Regions from separate parts of the Homo sapiens genome. Here regions 1, 3 and 4 are each reported to be linked to region 2. The links are microRNA targets in miRTarBase. Many come from high-throughput screens and were not tested one by one. Region 2 holds a microRNA gene; each other region holds the end of a gene's coding sequence.
The links. The annotated mature microRNA hsa-miR-6776-3p reads CAACCACCACUGUCUCUCCCCAG and lies in region 2 at 2,499-2,521, shown strand. An mRNA with a match to its seed (bases 2 to 7 or 8) in the 3' UTR can be bound and repressed. Matches are read on the target gene's strand: a 7mer-m8 pairs with bases 2 to 8, a 7mer-A1 pairs with bases 2 to 7 and ends in A, and an 8mer does both.

Region 1 (4,000 bases), not on the chromosome of region 2:
GGGGGGGAAAATGAAAGAGCCTGGATCTCAACAATACCAGGCATCTTGTAGAACTGTGTGATTCCTCGGGGGAATAAAAGAAAAATGAACACTAGAAAATTCATTTATAGACATTCAGGCCAAATTTAGAAAACGTTACAACATTTCCTCTTGGGACAAAACAGTTTTTAACATTTATTTAAGCATTCCGTTTATAATATGAGTAGAAAAAGAGCGCGATTAACTTAGTAAGAAAAGATCTATGCTTTTTACAGCTTTCTGTTTTGATATAATACATTAATTTATCATGTTTTATAGTTTCAGCTGTGCCACAGTCCAAAGTTTCTGAAGCCATGATCGAGCCAAAATTTTATGCCCAGCAAACACAGAAATTAATAGTACACCTTGTTTATTTTTGGTTAAAATTATCCTAATTTCGGATTAAAAATAAGATTGTTAATATTTTTAATCAAAACCTTTCTCCGCCGCAATTCCAGCTTTACGAGATCAGAAAGTGGAGCAACAGCGCTCTCTAGTGGCCAAATGCCACCTCCAGTCCACTGAATTTAATTTTTATTCATCTCAAACCAATTCTAATCTCGTTCTTCAATTTGGGGCTTGGACTGCTGACACTAATAATGCTTCATTCCTGTGACTGTCAACAAGTCAAGAGCAGCAAGCAGGAGCTCCTGTATGCCTAGGATATTCTAATCAGTGCTCCCAACAGCTTCCAGTAGTGTCTTTTCCAAAAGCTTCCAGCCCTTCTTTTGCCAGACACCAAAAGTCCCCATGCTGTAACCGCCCAGCTGTGCCTTTTAAAACAATTATAGGACAGGCTAGATTTAACAAAACCTACAACTTTCTAAATATCAACTGCCAAGAGGCTTTTTATTTTCCAGAGGAACCAGACACTTTGGCAACCAAGAAATTACAGAAATCAAGTATTGTTATGTTTTTGTTTTTCTCTTACAGCTGTTACTTTTAGGATTAAATCATGAATATTTGCTACTTTAACACTGTAACTTTAATGCTTTGGGGCCCACTTAGGTGGCCGATTTTGGGGGGAATCGAAGCCAAATCAAAAGCTTTTTGCTGGATCTCTGAGTGGCTGTCTGGAAAGTCCCTTTGCGCTTCTGTTTGTTGGAATTTCTATGGACAATAAATGGGATTTTAAAAATATATATCAAAAGTCATTGAACTAAGCATTCCACTAGAATTTTTTTTAAAAGCAATGACTATTCAATTGGCTTAAGTGTTTCCTGTTAGGTTAATCTTTTTACTCATCTTCAAAACTGCTTTCCTCCAGTTTAGGTGTAACAATTGTATTTTTTTATAAGTGAATAGACATAAATTTCAACAACATTTTGCTTCAAAGTTTGGAGTGGAGGGCCAGAGATTCTTGTGAATAGGCATCTAACTTCATCTTTTCCCGCGAACCACACTTCTGGGAGACTCTCACCTGGGTAAATGACCTAAGATCACTAACCACCCTATCCCCAGATAACAGGCCAATTTTTTTGTTTGTTTGTTTCTAAAGAACCAGCTAAACCGTGGTCATAGTCAAAATATTGTAAAATGCCATCTCCTTAGGCTACTTCCATTACCTGGTTCATTTCAAAAATCAGAAATTCATTCACCTCTTCCTTCCTACCTCTTTCATGTTTACTTCCTAGGTGCTCACACCTCACCTGGGGGCTCCCATGCCCCTGCCTTCTTGGTCCAACGCAGTCTTGTTTATATTTTATTGTCTAGATTTTAAGACCCAGTTTTGTCTGCATTTTTCCTTTTCTCCCACAAACACAAACATCAAAATGAGATGGTTTCAAAGCAAAGCACTGGGCCTGTCGTAAACTCATTACCTCCAGACGTCTGGCCCGCTAGATGGCTTTATGACACCTCGGCTCTTCCTGTTTTCAAAGAGCCCTAGGTACCCAGCTGGCCACAGTGGCAGGGGTGCGCAGCACCTTCTGCCGGATCTGGGCCTTCCTTGGCTTTCCCTCCCAGCCCCCCTATGCTTTTTCTTCGCGTCCCCTCTTTCATTGGGATCCCCCAAGATCTCTGCCACCGCCCCCACCTTCCACCCAGCTCAGGCCACTTGGCAGTGCTGCCTCTTTGGCCTGCAAATGCTGTGCTCACCCAAACCCTCACTTACAATGACCTTCATTTTAGCCCCTGAATGCAGCCCTCAGAGGGCCAAGCTGGGGGCTAAACATACACAGAAGCTGGGTGGGGGGAAGGGGGCGGTGAAATGGAGGTGGCTGGGGAGGAGAGCCTTGACCATTTTGATCGCTAAGGTCACTTTGGGGCTTTGGTGGGGAGGAGCAGAAGCTCACAGCCTGACCAGCTGGGACCTCCCGGAGCCAGCTAGCCCCACCGAGCTGGGACAGTTGCTCCAGAGTGTAGAGTTGGCCTTTCCCTTGTTTGGAGAGGGGTTTGGCATCTGGGGCTTCAGGAGCCCAGGGAAGGTTAGGGTGCTGTGTACCCAAGCCCCAGCCTGAAAGTGCCTGGCTTCTGGGGCCTGCTGGCTCTTCTGGGCGCTTCTGCAAGGCTAACACTGGGCCCAAGCACAGAGTTCGTGGAGGACCTTGAACCAGGCTTGGGGAGGCACCAATGTCCCCCCACAGGGTCTGTGCTGCTGCATCTGCCTACACAAAGGGATGTGAGGCAGAGAAGGCAGAGACACATCAGAGAGATCTGTCAGGTGGAAGGGCCCTGAATTTTTAACAATGTCTCACTCCCAGGGGTAGAGGAGAAATATCCTGAGTGTGATATTTTGCAGAGAGGCAGAGAAAGCAGGCACACAATGTTTAGGGCCAGCGTCTGGGCTCCATTTGATCAGGTCAGCATTTATTAGTAGGAAGCAGTAACATTTACAACTGGTCCTCGGGCAGGAACCGGGAGGGCCACCACCCGCGGCCGCCCACGCGAGCCCAGCCTTCAGGGGAGAGAGCAGCGCGTCCAATGCACTGAGGACAAACCCCAACCCGCCCGAGGCCCTGGGCTCCTCTAAGCCTCACTGGAGATCTCCACCGAGGTCCCGCGTGCTCCCTGAGGAAAGGGGGCTTTCGCAACTGGTGGGCAACCCCGCCGGGCTTCACCGTGGGCTAGCAGCCGGGGTGTCCGCACTGTTGTCGCTCTGCCTTCATTCTTGGAATTGGGGCGCACTTGGCCCCTGTTTGGGCAGTGCTGGGGGTGAGGGGACTAAACTACAGCACTTTTCAGAAACATGGGGGACATTTACACAAGAGAGGGCTCCCCAAGCCAGCTTGCACTCACAAAATATAGCATTTCTTAAGGAACCAATGGAGCAGGAAAGAGAGGGAGTGGGATAGGGCGAAACCCCAAAGCCACTTGGTTTTTCCAACACGTAAACGAGCAAATACAGAGTCCCCCAAATACCTCAGAGACCAACCACACAGTCACTTCTATCTAAAAAGAAAAAAAAAAAGAAGAAGAAGTCCAAGTCGCTGGAGAGTTTCTGGAAATCAAGCACCAAACACCCACAAAGGAAAACAGCAACAACAACAAATCCGCTGCCCTTGAGCGCTCCCGCCAGCACCGCGCCGGGTCAGTCTCCTTTGGGGCATTTCTCCTTGCTCATCTTTTTCATTTTCATCCTACGGTTCTGAAACCAGATTTTGACCTGTCTCTCTGTTAGGTTGAGAATCCTGGCCACCTCGTAGCGCCGGTCCCGGGTGAGGTACATGTTGAAGAGGAATTCTTTCTCCAGCTCAAGCGTCTGGTATTTGGTGTAGGGACAGCGCTTTTTCCGGGTGGAGCGAGCGTGGATCCAGTTCGCGGCGGGGTTGTCTACAAAGAGGGAGGTTTGGAGACGGGGAGAGAGGAGAGGAGGGGAGGCAGGGAGAGACCACAGGGTGGGGAAGAGAGGTCGTTAAATTAATTTCACCAAGGATGGTCGCTTTTCACAACTTGTGGGGAATTATCATAAAAAGCCTTAATGCTCGCGCTCTGTTTACCGTACTAACTGAGCGCCCAGGGTAGGTGGTTATGGGAAGCTCTT
Region 2 (4,356 bases):
ACGTCTTTGTGAGTGCTGCCCGGGGTGGGGCGGAACGGGAGCTGTGGGACTGGGATGGAGGCCGGGGGCCTGACCAAGACCTCCCTTCTGAATCCTTCCAGAAAATCGGCATTGGAGAACTCATCACCCGCTCGGCCAAGCACATCTTCAAGACGTACTTACAGGTGCCACCCGTCCGCTCTGCGGCTGGCCATGGCCTCCCAGGGTGGTGTGGGGCGTCGGGAAAGAGCCTGAGGTGGGGCTGAGGGCCCTCATGACTCGGATCCAACCTGCCTCGCAGGGAGTCGAGCTCTCCGGCCTCTCAGCCGCCATCAGCCACTTCCTGAACTGCTTCCTGAGCTCCTACCCAAACCCCGTGGCCCACCTGCCCGCCGACGAGCTGGTCTCCAAGAAGCGGAATAAGAGGAGGAAAAACCGGCCCCCGGGGGCTGCAGATAACACAGCCTGGGCTGTCATGACCCCCCAGGAGCTCTGGAAGAACATCTGCCAGGAGGCCAAGAACTACTTTGACTTCGACCTCGAGTGGTGCGTGCGGGGCAGGGGCGGTGGGGTGGGTGGGATTGGGCAGATGAGGCGGCCACCACCTGCTCCCAGATGGCGTCTAAGGCCTGTGGTCATAGGCCAGGGAGTCAGAGAGAAGAGGGAGCAGCTGTGGAGATCACTGGGTGCTGGAGGGTGAGGGCAGCCGGGAGGCTCCCGGGGGCCGGGTGGGGCAGTGTTGGGGGCCCGGGCTGGACAGCGTTGGGGAGCTGGGTGGGGCGGTGTTGGGGGGGCCCGGCGGTGCTTGGGCTGCTCAGGCCCCCTGCTCCCTCCTCAGTGAGACCGTGGACCAGGCTGTGGAGACCTACGGCCTGCAGAAGATAACGCTCCTGCGGGAGATCTCGCTGAAAACAGGGATCCAGGTGGGCATGGCTCACAGCATCCCCGCTGTGTCCCCGCTGTGTCCCCGCTGCGTCCCTGCTGCAGGCTCCCACTCCTGGCCAGGGCCACAGGGGAAGTGGCTTTTTCACGGTAGCCGTCTGTGCGCAAGCGTTGGTGGGTTGGGAGGTGCCAACCCGCTGAACCTGGGCCTGAGGCTTCCTGTGGTGGGGGGGCTGCCCCCCAGGTCCTGCTGAAGGAGTACAGCTTCGACAGTCGCCACAAGCCCGCGTTCACCGAGGAGGACGTGCTCAACATCTTCCCCGTGGTCAAGCACGTCAACCCCAAGGCCTCGGATGCCTTCCATTTCTTCCAGAGCGGGCAGGCCAAAGTGCAGCAGGGTGTGTGGCCAGGTGGGGCTGGGTGGAGGTGGGGGTTCCCCATGGCCCGTCCTGACCTTGCCACCCCTGGGGGTGCCCTGCAGGCTTCCTGAAGGAGGGCTGTGAGCTCATCAATGAGGCCCTGAACCTGTTTAACAACGTCTACGGAGCCATGCACGTGGAGACCTGCGCCTGCCTGCGCCTCCTCGCCCGCCTCCACTACATCATGGGCGACTACGCAGAGGTACCCTCTGGGCTGTGGCAGCAAAGGCCTGGCCTCGTGTTGGGGGATGGGGAGTGAGGGGGCCCCTGACGGAGGAGTGGGTGGAGTCCAGGGAGACCCCAGGAAGTCGCTGGTTCTGCCCAGGCCACCCCTGGCTCCACCCCTCTGTAACTGTGTCCCGAGCGGGAGAGCTCAGGAGCACCCTGTGCTGCGGTGAGGTCAGTTCTGGGAGGCGATGGCAGGGGACCCCCCCACAGGGCGTCAGCAAGGACGCCTCCTGAGACTCCGTGAGTGGGCAGGAAGCATGCCACCGAGCTCCCACGTCCTCTGTGCCCAGTGCAGGCTGTGGGGTTCTGGGTGCCCTGCCTGGCCGGGGCTGGTGGAGGCTGTGGTGGGGTTCTGGGTGCCCTGCCTGGCCAGGGCTGTTTCAGGGTTAGCATGTCTTAGGATCCCTACTCCCTGCAAAGGGACTGTTTTTTCTTCTGTTTATAAATGGGTGGGTTGTTTGTTTGTTTGTTTGTTTCTGAGACAGGGTCTTGCTTTGTCACCCAGGCTGGAGTGTAGTGGCGTGATATCGACTCCCTGCAGCCTCAACCTCCTGGGCTCAAGCGATTCTCCCACCTCAGCCTCCCGAGTAGCTGGGATTACAGGCGTGAGCCAGCACACCCAGCTAATTTTTGTATTTTTAGTAGAGATGGGGTTTCATCATGTTGGCCAGGATGGTCTCAAACTCCTGACCTCAAGGGACCCACCCCTGCTCAGGCTTTTTTTTTTTTTTTGTAACATTTTTAGTAGTTTTAGGTTTGTATTTGGGTGTTTGTGGAGATTTTGTTGGGTGTAAGACATGGGTGTGTGGAGCTCTCTGTGGAGCGTGACCTGCCCTTCAAGGTGTGGCAGCAGCTGCTGCTGATCCCCCTCCCCCCTGCTGCACTGTGCTGGGCGCAGCCGGAGGGGACAGGAGCCTGCAGAGCGGCACCGTGGGCTGCTGGGCCGGGGCCAGGCGGGCTCTGGGTGCAGTGGGGGTTCCCACGCCGCGGCAACCACCACTGTCTCTCCCCAGGCCCTGAGTAACCAGCAGAAGGCGGTGCTGATGAGCGAGCGGGTGATGGGCACCGAGCACCCCAACACCATCCAGGAATACGTGAGTCGCGAGTGCCGCCCGCGCCGGGGGATGCGAGGGGCTGGGTCCGCGGCCACCCTGACCTGTCTCCGCCCCGCCCGCAGATGCACCTGGCCCTGTACTGCTTCGCCAGCAGCCAGCTGTCCACCGCCCTGAGCCTGCTGTACCGCGCCCGCTACCTCATGCTGCTGGTGTTCGGGGAAGACCACCCCGAGATGGCGCTGCTGGACGTGAGTGCTGGGGCGGGGGGGCGGCAGGGACCCAGCTCCATCCCAGGGGACCGGGAGCTGACCAGGGCCCCCCACCGCCTGCCCCCAGAACAACATCGGGCTGGTGCTGCACGGGGTGATGGAGTACGACCTGTCGCTGCGCTTCCTGGAGAACGCGCTGGCCGTCAGCACCAAGTACCACGGGCCCAAGGCCCTCAAGGTGGCCCTCAGGTGAGGGGCCGCCCGTCCAAACGCCAAGGCCGGCGGAGGCCTGCGGGGCAGCCGGCGGGGGCGGGGAAGAGACCCAGTGCTCCTGTCTTCCTCCACCCGAGAAAATTTCTCTCGACCTCCCCCTCTTCCCTGAGCCCTGGACTTGCTGTTCCCCTCGGTGGCTTCCAGGGAGGGATCTACGGGAGACCCCGGGCCCCCGAGTCAGGCCCCCACACCCAGCCCACTTATGCCCTTCCCTCGCCCCGCGCCGCGCCTCCCGGCAGCCACCACCTTGTCGCCCGAGTCTACGAGAGCAAAGCTGAGTTCCGGTCGGCCCTGCAGCACGAGAAGGAGGGTTACACCATCTACAAGACGCAGGTGCGCGGCGGGGGCGTGGCGGGGGCGGGGGCGGGGCGGGGGCGTGGCGGGGCGGGGGCGGGGCCGCGGGGGCACGGGGGGGCCTGATCCCTTCCCGCCTCCCCGCAGCTGGGCGAGGACCATGAGAAGACCAAGGAAAGCTCCGAGTACCTCAAGTGCCTGACCCAGCAGGCCGTGGCCCTGCAGCGCACCATGAACGAGATCTACCGCAACGGCTCCAGCGCCAACATCCCGCCCCTCAAGGTGAGTCCGGGGCGGAGCGGCCCCTCCGGCCCGGCGAGCGCGGGAGCCCCGCTCACCGCTGGTTTCCCCGCCCCGCAGTTCACGGCCCCCAGCATGGCCAGCGTCTTGGAGCAGCTGAACGTCATTAACGGCATCCTCTTCATTCCTCTCAGGTGAGGCCTCCGCCCCACTCGAGTGTCTCCCGGTTGGGGGTTTTTTGTGAGTCGGAGTCTCGCCCTGTCACCCGGGCTGGAGTGCGGCGGCGCCATCCCGGCTCACTGCAGCCTCCGCCTCCCGGGTTCAGCGATTCTCCTGCCTCAGCCTCCCCAGTAGCTGGGATTACAGGTGTCCGCCACCTCGCCCGGCTCATTTTTGTGTTTGTAGTAGAGATGGGGTTTCACCACGTTGACCAGGCTGGTCTCGAACTCTTAACCTTGCGATCCGCCCGCCTCGGCCTCTCAGAGTGCTGGGATTCCAGGCGTGAGCCATCGCGCCCGGCCCGCCCCGCTTATCTTCCCCAGCATCCTCGCATTCCGCGAGTGAAGACCTTGGTGTTTCTGCTTCACACAAAGTATCTTGGCGTTTTCCCACCAGTCCCTAAGAAGCGGCTTCATTCCCTCCCCACGCTTCCCATCCTGCGGCGGGGGGGGGCTGAGGAGCAGGCCCCGGGCTCCCCGGGGTGGCCACAAGCAGTGTGGCCTCCTGTGGGGAGTGGATTTGGTCAGCAAGGCGTGGCAGCAGCCCCCCAACTCCGCT
Region 3 (4,000 bases), not on the chromosome of region 2:
ACCTGATATACTATTCATTTTTATATCCTAAGCCCAATATAATGTGTGTACATAGCAAGAATTAGTTGATGCTTATTGATTACATGCATGCATTTATCTTGTTTATTGAGTCAATACAAGTTTACTGAACCCTGGAAATCTTCAATTCCTTCCCCTTTCCTAAGCCTAAAATCTATGACACTATTAAAATTGTAGACCAGTCCCCCTGCATTTCTCTTCAGTTGTCTGTTTTAATCTCTTCAGGTGCTGCCAGTGGCATGCCCAAACCCAAAGCTGGAAGAGGAATAAATTACAAGTGGTCAAGGTTGCATCCTTTTGAGCCCAGGACCTGCTTGTAAGCCGAGAGGGTTCTCTGGCCCTAATCTAGCCAAGCACCATGGAGAGAATCAGTGCCTTCTTCAGCTCTATCTGGGACACCATCTTGACCAAACACCAAGAAGGCATCTACAACACCATCTGCCTGGGAGTCCTCCTGGGCCTGCCACTCTTGGTGATCATCACACTCCTCTTCATCTGTTGCCATTGCTGCTGGAGCCCACCAGGCAAGAGGGGCCAGCAGCCAGAGAAGAACAAGAAGAAGAAGAAGAAGAAGAAGAAGAAGGATGAAGAAGACCTCTGGATCTCTGCTCAACCCAAGCTTCTCCAGATGGAGAAGAGACCATCACTGCCTGTTTAGTTAGGCAGGAAGCAGAGGTGTTTCCTTTCTGGGGCTAAGCCTCCTTCTGACCACACACAGACATTTCAGGAACCCCTGAAATAATGCACTATGTCCATGTCCACAGAGTAACTACTCAACCAAGGAACAAACCTCAGACTAAGTGTCCCAGTGGAGGGCAGTCCCAGGGACCACGTGGACAATTCTTGGATACTGTCTTGGCAGCTATGTGTCCAATAGCAATGCTCCTTACTGCAGACCCAGGCATGCCTCCCACCTGTCTCTGGCATACCCCACATGCAAAGCACAAAGAACATTTATCCATACATCTCAATATGGTTCCCAAGTGTGTGCACATGCACGTAACACACACACACACAAATTCAGGTAGCAGGTACGTGGGCAAGTATATTCTGCTCATCAAATGGTCATTGGCTATGTACTTTGTGCAGGGAAGTACATTATCTACAGTCACAAAAATGTCTCATGGGAAAGCCTTGCCAGATTCAGACACATATATACAATTTCCTAACCAGCAAGGCCCCCATACACCATCTATTCCATAAACCACTCAGGTTACAGATGCATGCTTTCCTATTTCTAACTCTACACATAAACTTTTACTGGAAGTACTCATAATTGGACATTCCAGCAACCTGCTACAGTCCCCACCCTTGTGTGTCTTGATACAGACACACCAAGTTTCTGTGCCTCTGACCCCTCACCTGTGCCAAGATGTTTAAAGTGTGATGGTTCAAAATTCATTGAAAGCTCTTTTCTTGTAACTCATGACAAAGTCCGTCCTCATTGCCACTGAGAGGTGTTTAATGTGATCCAAGACCTCTCTGTGAAACATTACCCCCGCAAACCACTCAGCAAAGTGCCTTTCTCCAAGCAAGAACAAAGAGCTCTTGGTGGTGACTGCTAGAAAATTATGGAAGCCCACTCATTTATGTCAGTGGACTGCAACTGTGTACCTGTGCAATGTTTACAGATGGAAAGGGTGAGGAGATGCTACACCTGAGCTAGGTATCTCCTATATAACCAAAGTTTCCAGCAGGGAAGGAACTAGACAATCATCAGTGCAGTCTCACAGAAGGCAACACTGGAAGTGATGTCATAAGGTTGTGATGTGTGCACGGTATGGCACAGGTGGGATGCAGAGGTAACAGAGTTTAAATGAAAGTAGGATGAAGCTATAAAGAGGTTTATTTATATTTATATTGAAGCTCAGGCAAGTGCCTTGCACACAGTAGGTACTTATAACTAACTGTGGTTACTGTTGGATATGTGATGTTGTTAAGGGTAAGCTTGTAATACCTCACCAGTTCTCCCCGAGTGATCTTCTCTTCTAAGTGAGCCCACTAATTGCTGCAATGGATGAAATTGGGTGTTTAATGCTGGAGAGCACATGTAGGTGACACATGTGCCTTGAGGTATGTGAGGACATGTAAATTAGATCCACAGTGAGCTGAGGAGGGCTTTCCCCGCCAGAGTGAGGTTGGGAAGCAGAGTTAATCCACTTATAGGATGAACTGCTTGGTATTTTTATTGTATTGTGACTGTATTACAAAGATGGACAATTCACTCCTTGGGAGCAAGTTATGCTCTAGAAGTTTATTTACAAATATGCTGGGCAGCTCTCTTGAAATATTTTCCCAAGGAAGCTATTCTACACAGTGGCAAAATTGCTATCTAATTAATAATGTAGCTAAACTATGATATTTATAGTAGCAAAAAACTAAATTCTATAAGATTGCATTAAAGGAAAGATATATTCTATTTGCTCACTTGGGCTGCTTGGTACTCACCTGCCCTCCAGGTGTACTTTAGGCCTGTGGAGGGTGGGCATTTAGTGGTGACCCTTGCACCAGGGTTTTCTAACAGATGACCCTGTGAATCATAATTTAAACCTGCATATATTTTATAGCCAGTCACATTTGCCCTCTCACCCTATATGGCCATAAACTGCCTAAGCACTCAGGCCTCCCACTCATCAACCCCTTTGACCAGAGAAAGAAGCACTCTGGTTCTCTATCCCCTTGTCACATAGAGAGTTTGTCATGGGGCCTCTGGCTGTGCCCTTCACATAACAGAATGACTTGCCATCTGCCTGCACCAAACCCAGGGATGTGGAAGACATCTCCCCACAACTGCCACTGCTCACCAGGACAAGCTGCCCTTCCTGTCTCCACCTCTCAGTCCCCCTAGAATGGATGGCTGGGGAGAGGTGGAGGCTGACAGCTGAGACGTAGTGTCAGATATGATCTAGGAGGGCGGATCACCGGGATCCGGGACCATACAAGTAACATGGTTTCCATGGCAACTGCTTGCTCCTTTGAATTAAGACAGCAGTCAGTTGTCATTGCCATGACAAGGCCTCTATCTCCAGGCACAATGTCCCTGCTGTCTCCTAATCCAATGGACTTGCTCTCACCCCAGGGATGAAACACCCAGAAACTCACTTCTCAGTCACTTCCACAGCCGATGACTCAGAAGAGCCAAACCCAGAATGGGGCCTCTCTTTTCCCCATCACAGACTCCCCTGACAACCTTTCCTGGCGTAACTAGAGGAGTCCCAGTGCAGGATAGGCCCTAAACGTTTTGTTAAATAAACAGGTGCATGAAAGGAGCCTAAGGCCATTGTTGATATCCACTCTCTTCTTTCCACTTCCTTCTCATCTTTTTCTCCATGTTTTATGCTTCTCTGATTCCCTCTTCTGCCTGCACCAGACCAGCCCCAGCCCTTTATTCCTCTCCATTTTCACTCCTTCCAGCCTCTGTCCCTGAACTGCCACTGGCAACCCATGGGACCTCAGGACCAGAGACTGCTTGACTCATCTGGGGAGGGTAAGTTCACGGGGGACAAAAAAATGATTCCTAAAGAAGAGGCTTCCTAGACCAGCACAGGCTCGAGAAAGACATCCCCTAGGCCTGGACTTCTGAGCAGCTTTAGCCAGGCTCCGGACGGCAGCCAGAGGAGGCCTTTCCCCATTGCTCCTTTCCCCATTGCTCAATGGATTCCATGTTTCTTTTTCTTGGGGGGAGCAGGGAGGGAGAAAGGTAGAAAAATGGCAGCCACCTTTCCAAGAAAAATATAAAGGGTCCAAGCTGTATAGTATTTGTCAGTATTTTTTTCTGTAAAATTCAAACACACACAAAAGAAAAATTTATTTAAATAAAATACTTTGAAAATGAAAAGTCTTGATGTAGTCAGATGGTTACTCTCTTAACATTAGGTATTACCCCCACTCAGACATCACTCAGAAATGATCAATGCAGGGACTCTTTCTGTGACACAAATGTCCCAGCCCTCCCTGGTCACCGCCTTCGCCATGGTAGAGT
Region 4 (4,000 bases), not on the chromosome of region 2:
TCATCACTTCTAGCAGCAAGAGCTTGAACATTCATGCTCCCTATGGTATCGAGATGGAAGCTGACAGGTGTTCCATTGACTCAACTCAATACACCTCTAGTGCCAGTGGGTTCCCTTGAGCTCCAGGACAGTGAGCTCCAGCACAGTACAAGGGCAAACAGGAACCAAATCTGAATTATTACGATGCTGGATTCTACTCAATGCCCAGTTTTGGAAACTCTAGAGCTTGCTTTAAAAATAATCATTGTAAGAAACATTTACAATGTGTCTAAAATAAAAATTACTCTCCATAACAAAGTTCCATGTATAACAACACAGATTCTGTGAAGTAGCGAGTGAGAGATTTTTTTCCCTCTTCCTCTTAAGAGAAATTGAGGGTGAAGTCAGTGCCTCAAAAGCTGGCTGGAGCAGTGTTAGGTACAATGAACTATTTCAGTGTAGAATGAATTACAAAACAGTAATATGAAGGAAGGTTTGATTGTAAGCACAGCAGCAGCAAATCCTCCAACATTTACCCCATTATCATTTGGTGAGAGGGGAACCTTAACTCTAACCCTTTTACTGTTGTTGCTCTCTACCATTTTGCTTTTTCATAAAAGTTCTACATCAAAACTGTTACTCCCTCTTCCACAACAGCACTGAAAACTGTATTTCCTTAGAGCTATACTGTCCCCAAAATTGGAATACAGACTTCATGAGAGAATATTTTATCTCTGCCTACCACAGCATGTGAAAAAAAAGGAATTTTTTAAAATTTAAATGTTAAAAATTTTCCAATTCTACCAATACCTACCAACTTACAAAACTCTAGAGAACTCAGAAATACACAAACACACATTCCATTAACCACCAGAGTGATGATGCTGTCGCGTCATAGAGCCTCTGGAAAACCCCACTGTATAACTGGTGAGAGAAACAGAGGGAAAAAGGCAAACAACTTGAGAAGAATTACTTAACAAGACATAGGGAAGAGTAATCACTAAATCCTCAATAACACAATTTCCAATTCTATTTAGAATTTGGTATTTGGGCCCAGTGTGGTGGCTCACAGCAGTAATCCTAACACTTTGGGAGGCCAAGGCAGGAAGATGTCTTGAGCCCAGGAGTTCGAGATCGGCCTGGGCAACACAGTGAGACCCCATCTCTACAAAAAATTTTTTTATAAAAAGTAGCCAGGCATGGTGGTGCACGCCTGTAGTCCCAGCTGCTCGGTAGGCTGAGGTGGGAGGATAGCTTGAGCCCAAGAGGTCAAGGCTGCAGTGAGCCATGATTGCGCCACTGCACTCCAGACTGGGTGACAGAGTGAGACCCTGTCTCAAAAAAAAAAAAAAAAAAAAAAGAATTTGGTATTCAATATATAAAGCTAAATTTTCCAAAGACAAAAAACTTAGAAAAAAAAGTTTCCTACAAATGTTAAGTCATAAGTCTCAGAAACTCAAAAGAAGTGACATTTACTTCCTGGCTGAGGTTGCCCAATGGCTTGTCAGAAAGAAACCGAGAGAGAGGCACATCAAGATGAGATGGGGCATTAACTCCATAGTCAGCTTCAGAATTCAGCACTGTCCCTGGAGCACTCATTCCCAAGTGCCACCTAACAACAATCTGAGGTGAAGTAAAATCTCAATTTGTATAGAAAATGAATATCCGTAGAAAGAGGAGGCCTTCTGGGAAAAAAATCAACCTTGCGGCCAGGCACGGTGGCTCACGCCTGCAATCCCAGTACTTTGGGAGGCTGAGACGGGCAGATCACGAGGTCAGGAGATTGAGACCATCCTGACTAACAAGGTGAAGCCCCGTCTCTACTAAAAATACAAAAAAAAAAAAAATTAGCCGGGTGCAGTGGCGGGCGCCTGTAGTCCCAGCTACTCAGGAGGCTGAGGCAGGAGAATGGTGTGAACCCAGGAGGCGGAGCTTGCAGTGAGCCGAGATCGTGCCACCGTACTCCAGCCTGGGCGACAGAGCGAGACTCCGTCTCAAAAAAAAAAAAAAAAAAAAAATCAACCTTGCAGGTACTAATATGTAAGTCCTCCATGAATGATCCAGCTATGCTGGTAAATAAGTGAGGGCAACATTGTATCCCAACACAGGAAGGGGTCAAATTCAAACTATGTGAACTATGTGATCATACTAACAGAAACACCGTTAAACATTTTATTCACAAGTGATTTGTGCAGTCCCAATAATAAATCTCACTGTTAGACACAGTCCTCACAATGTAGCAACTTAACACAGAGTTCAGAAGTGCAGTTAAAGAATATAAAGAGAGAAAGAATCAAGGCAAGAATAAGGAAGGAGAAGAAGGAGAGGACATGGAGGGAGGAAGAATGTGAGGAGGCAGGGGTGGGAGGCTGGGGCTCCCCAGCATTCCCGCCTCCCTCTGCTGGTCCGTGGTGAGGGAGGAGTGAGGGCCTCCTGTGGCTGACATTCTTCCAGGGAACTCTGCACAGTCCTGCTGATATCATCAGTTTCTTTTGCTGCTGCCTTGAAAAGTAAACAAAAAAGGGCTGCAACACTGCAACTCCATCAGGGGCATGGGAAGATGAGGGTGGGGATGGGGTGAAGGAACAGGAATCCAACAAATATTAAGAGGACAAACTTTGGTAGGAAAATGATAGACCAAGCAAAGTAAAAGGCAAACAACTTTAATGGTTATTTTGCTAAAGATAAAACTCTGGGTGGTAAAGGAATTAAAGGCAGAGTCTCAAAGAGATATTTGCACCCCCGTGTCTGTATTAGCACTACTCCCAATAGTCAAGAGGAAGCAAGCCAAGTGTTCACTGATGGAGGAACAGAGTGTGGTACGCACATGTAACGGAACATTCCATTATATGTATAATACAGGAAGGAAATCCTGTCACCTGACACAACATGGATGAACCTTGAGGACATTATGCTAAGTGAAATAAGCCAGTCACAAAAAGACAAGTCACTGTATGATTCCACTTATATGAGATACTGAGAATAGTCAAAACCAGAGAGACAGAAAGCAGAATGGTGGCTGCGGGGGCTGGGAGGAGTGGGAATTACTGTTTAATGGGTACAGTTTCCATTTTACAAGCTGAGAAGCCTATGGAGATGGACGGCGGTGACGGCCACACAGCATTATGAATGTATTAACAGTTAACGTTACTGAACTGTGCACTTAAAAATGGTGAAGACAGTATGTTTTATGAGTATTTTACGACAATTTAAAAATTAAAAGAAAAAAAACCAGAACACACTAAGGGTTATAGGCACAAATTCTCCTTATGCCCACCACCATCTCAGCTGGTAGTATGACGGGTGTAGACACCATTAGAGGCAATGGTGAATCTATGGGGAACCACCCAGGAAAGTCACCATCCAAATGTCCACATCCCTGCTTGGCAATTAAAACGAAGACACTTTTCTTCAGCACCTGGTGAAGATGTTTAGTTTCTAGTGCTTTCCAAGATCCACCTCAGGAGAAGTCAATTTGTCCACAGGAAGCGTAGTTTCCAAAGCTGTCTACGGTGAACCTCTGAGAGATGTGAATTGAATTCAGCTTTAGGGAGCCAAAGTAGAAGTTCTCAAACAACTGAAAAGGAAGAATAAAAACCCAGAATGAATATTTAAAGTATAGATGAAAATATTAAACATCAGATTATCTTGTAAAAACACCAAACCACAACAATCCCAACAAATCTCTCATGCTTTTTCTTTTCAGTGTTTACTCTGAATAATGATCCAGGAGAGGAGGGATGGGGGTGGGAGTGAGAAAAGAACAGCCAGCTCTTCTCTCTGATTAATTCTAAAGTCTCCCCTGACAAATGCACCAGAGAAAGAGGTTCTGAAAAGTCAAATCCGAAATTCATCTACTGACCAGATATGACCAAGAACTTATAGCAAACGCCCCATGGCCACACCCTGACTCACAGAGTCTGACCAGGCTGCTTCTGACTTCCAGTGACTGACCATGCAGGGATCTCGGCTTTGTTGCACCAGGGTTAAATTTGACGTAACATATATCTAATCAACGCCA

Region 1: miRTarBase lists HOXD9 as a target of hsa-miR-6776-3p. The part of its 3' UTR that is shown has no 7-base or 8-base seed match.
Region 3: the mRNA of KIAA0040 is a reported target of hsa-miR-6776-3p. Seed matches in the 3' UTR shown: 7mer-A1 at 1,928-1,934.
Region 4: miRTarBase lists ASCC1 as a target of hsa-miR-6776-3p. Seed matches in the 3' UTR shown: 7mer-m8 at 3,321-3,327.

What each region holds. Positions count from the first base shown.
Region 1 is chr2:176,123,723-176,127,722 of GRCh38, reverse strand. HOXD9 (homeobox D9) reads right to left here. Exons shown (of 2, transcript NM_014213.4): 2 at 2,786-3,789. The coding sequence ends at 3,548. Among named protein-coding and RNA genes, the nearest start is that of HOXD9, 3.0 kb to the right of the region's middle.
Region 2 is chr17:2,691,026-2,695,381 of GRCh38, reverse strand. It overlaps MIR6776 (microRNA 6776), which reads left to right and starts at 2,463; the gene lies at 2,463-2,521. CLUH (CLUH binding protein of NUMT mRNA) reads left to right here. Exons shown (of 26, transcript NM_001366661.1): 14 at 1-8; 15 at 102-164; 16 at 281-525; 17 at 818-902; 18 at 1,106-1,259; 19 at 1,343-1,482; 20 at 2,522-2,602; 21 at 2,686-2,811; 22 at 2,900-3,021; 23 at 3,285-3,378; 24 at 3,487-3,621; 25 at 3,700-3,773. RefSeq lists enhancers at 3,156-3,663, 3,664-4,172.
Region 3 is chr1:175,157,390-175,161,389 of GRCh38, reverse strand. KIAA0040 reads left to right here. Exons shown (of 4, transcript NM_014656.3): 4 at 244-4,000. The coding sequence starts at 377. The coding sequence ends at 676. Among named protein-coding and RNA genes, the nearest start is that of KIAA0040, 33 kb to the left of the region's middle.
Region 4 is chr10:72,093,895-72,097,894 of GRCh38, forward strand. ASCC1 (activating signal cointegrator 1 complex subunit 1) reads right to left here. Exons shown (of 10, transcript NM_001198800.3): 10 at 2,138-3,556. The coding sequence ends at 3,440. Among named protein-coding and RNA genes, the nearest start is that of SPOCK2, 7.3 kb to the left of the region's middle.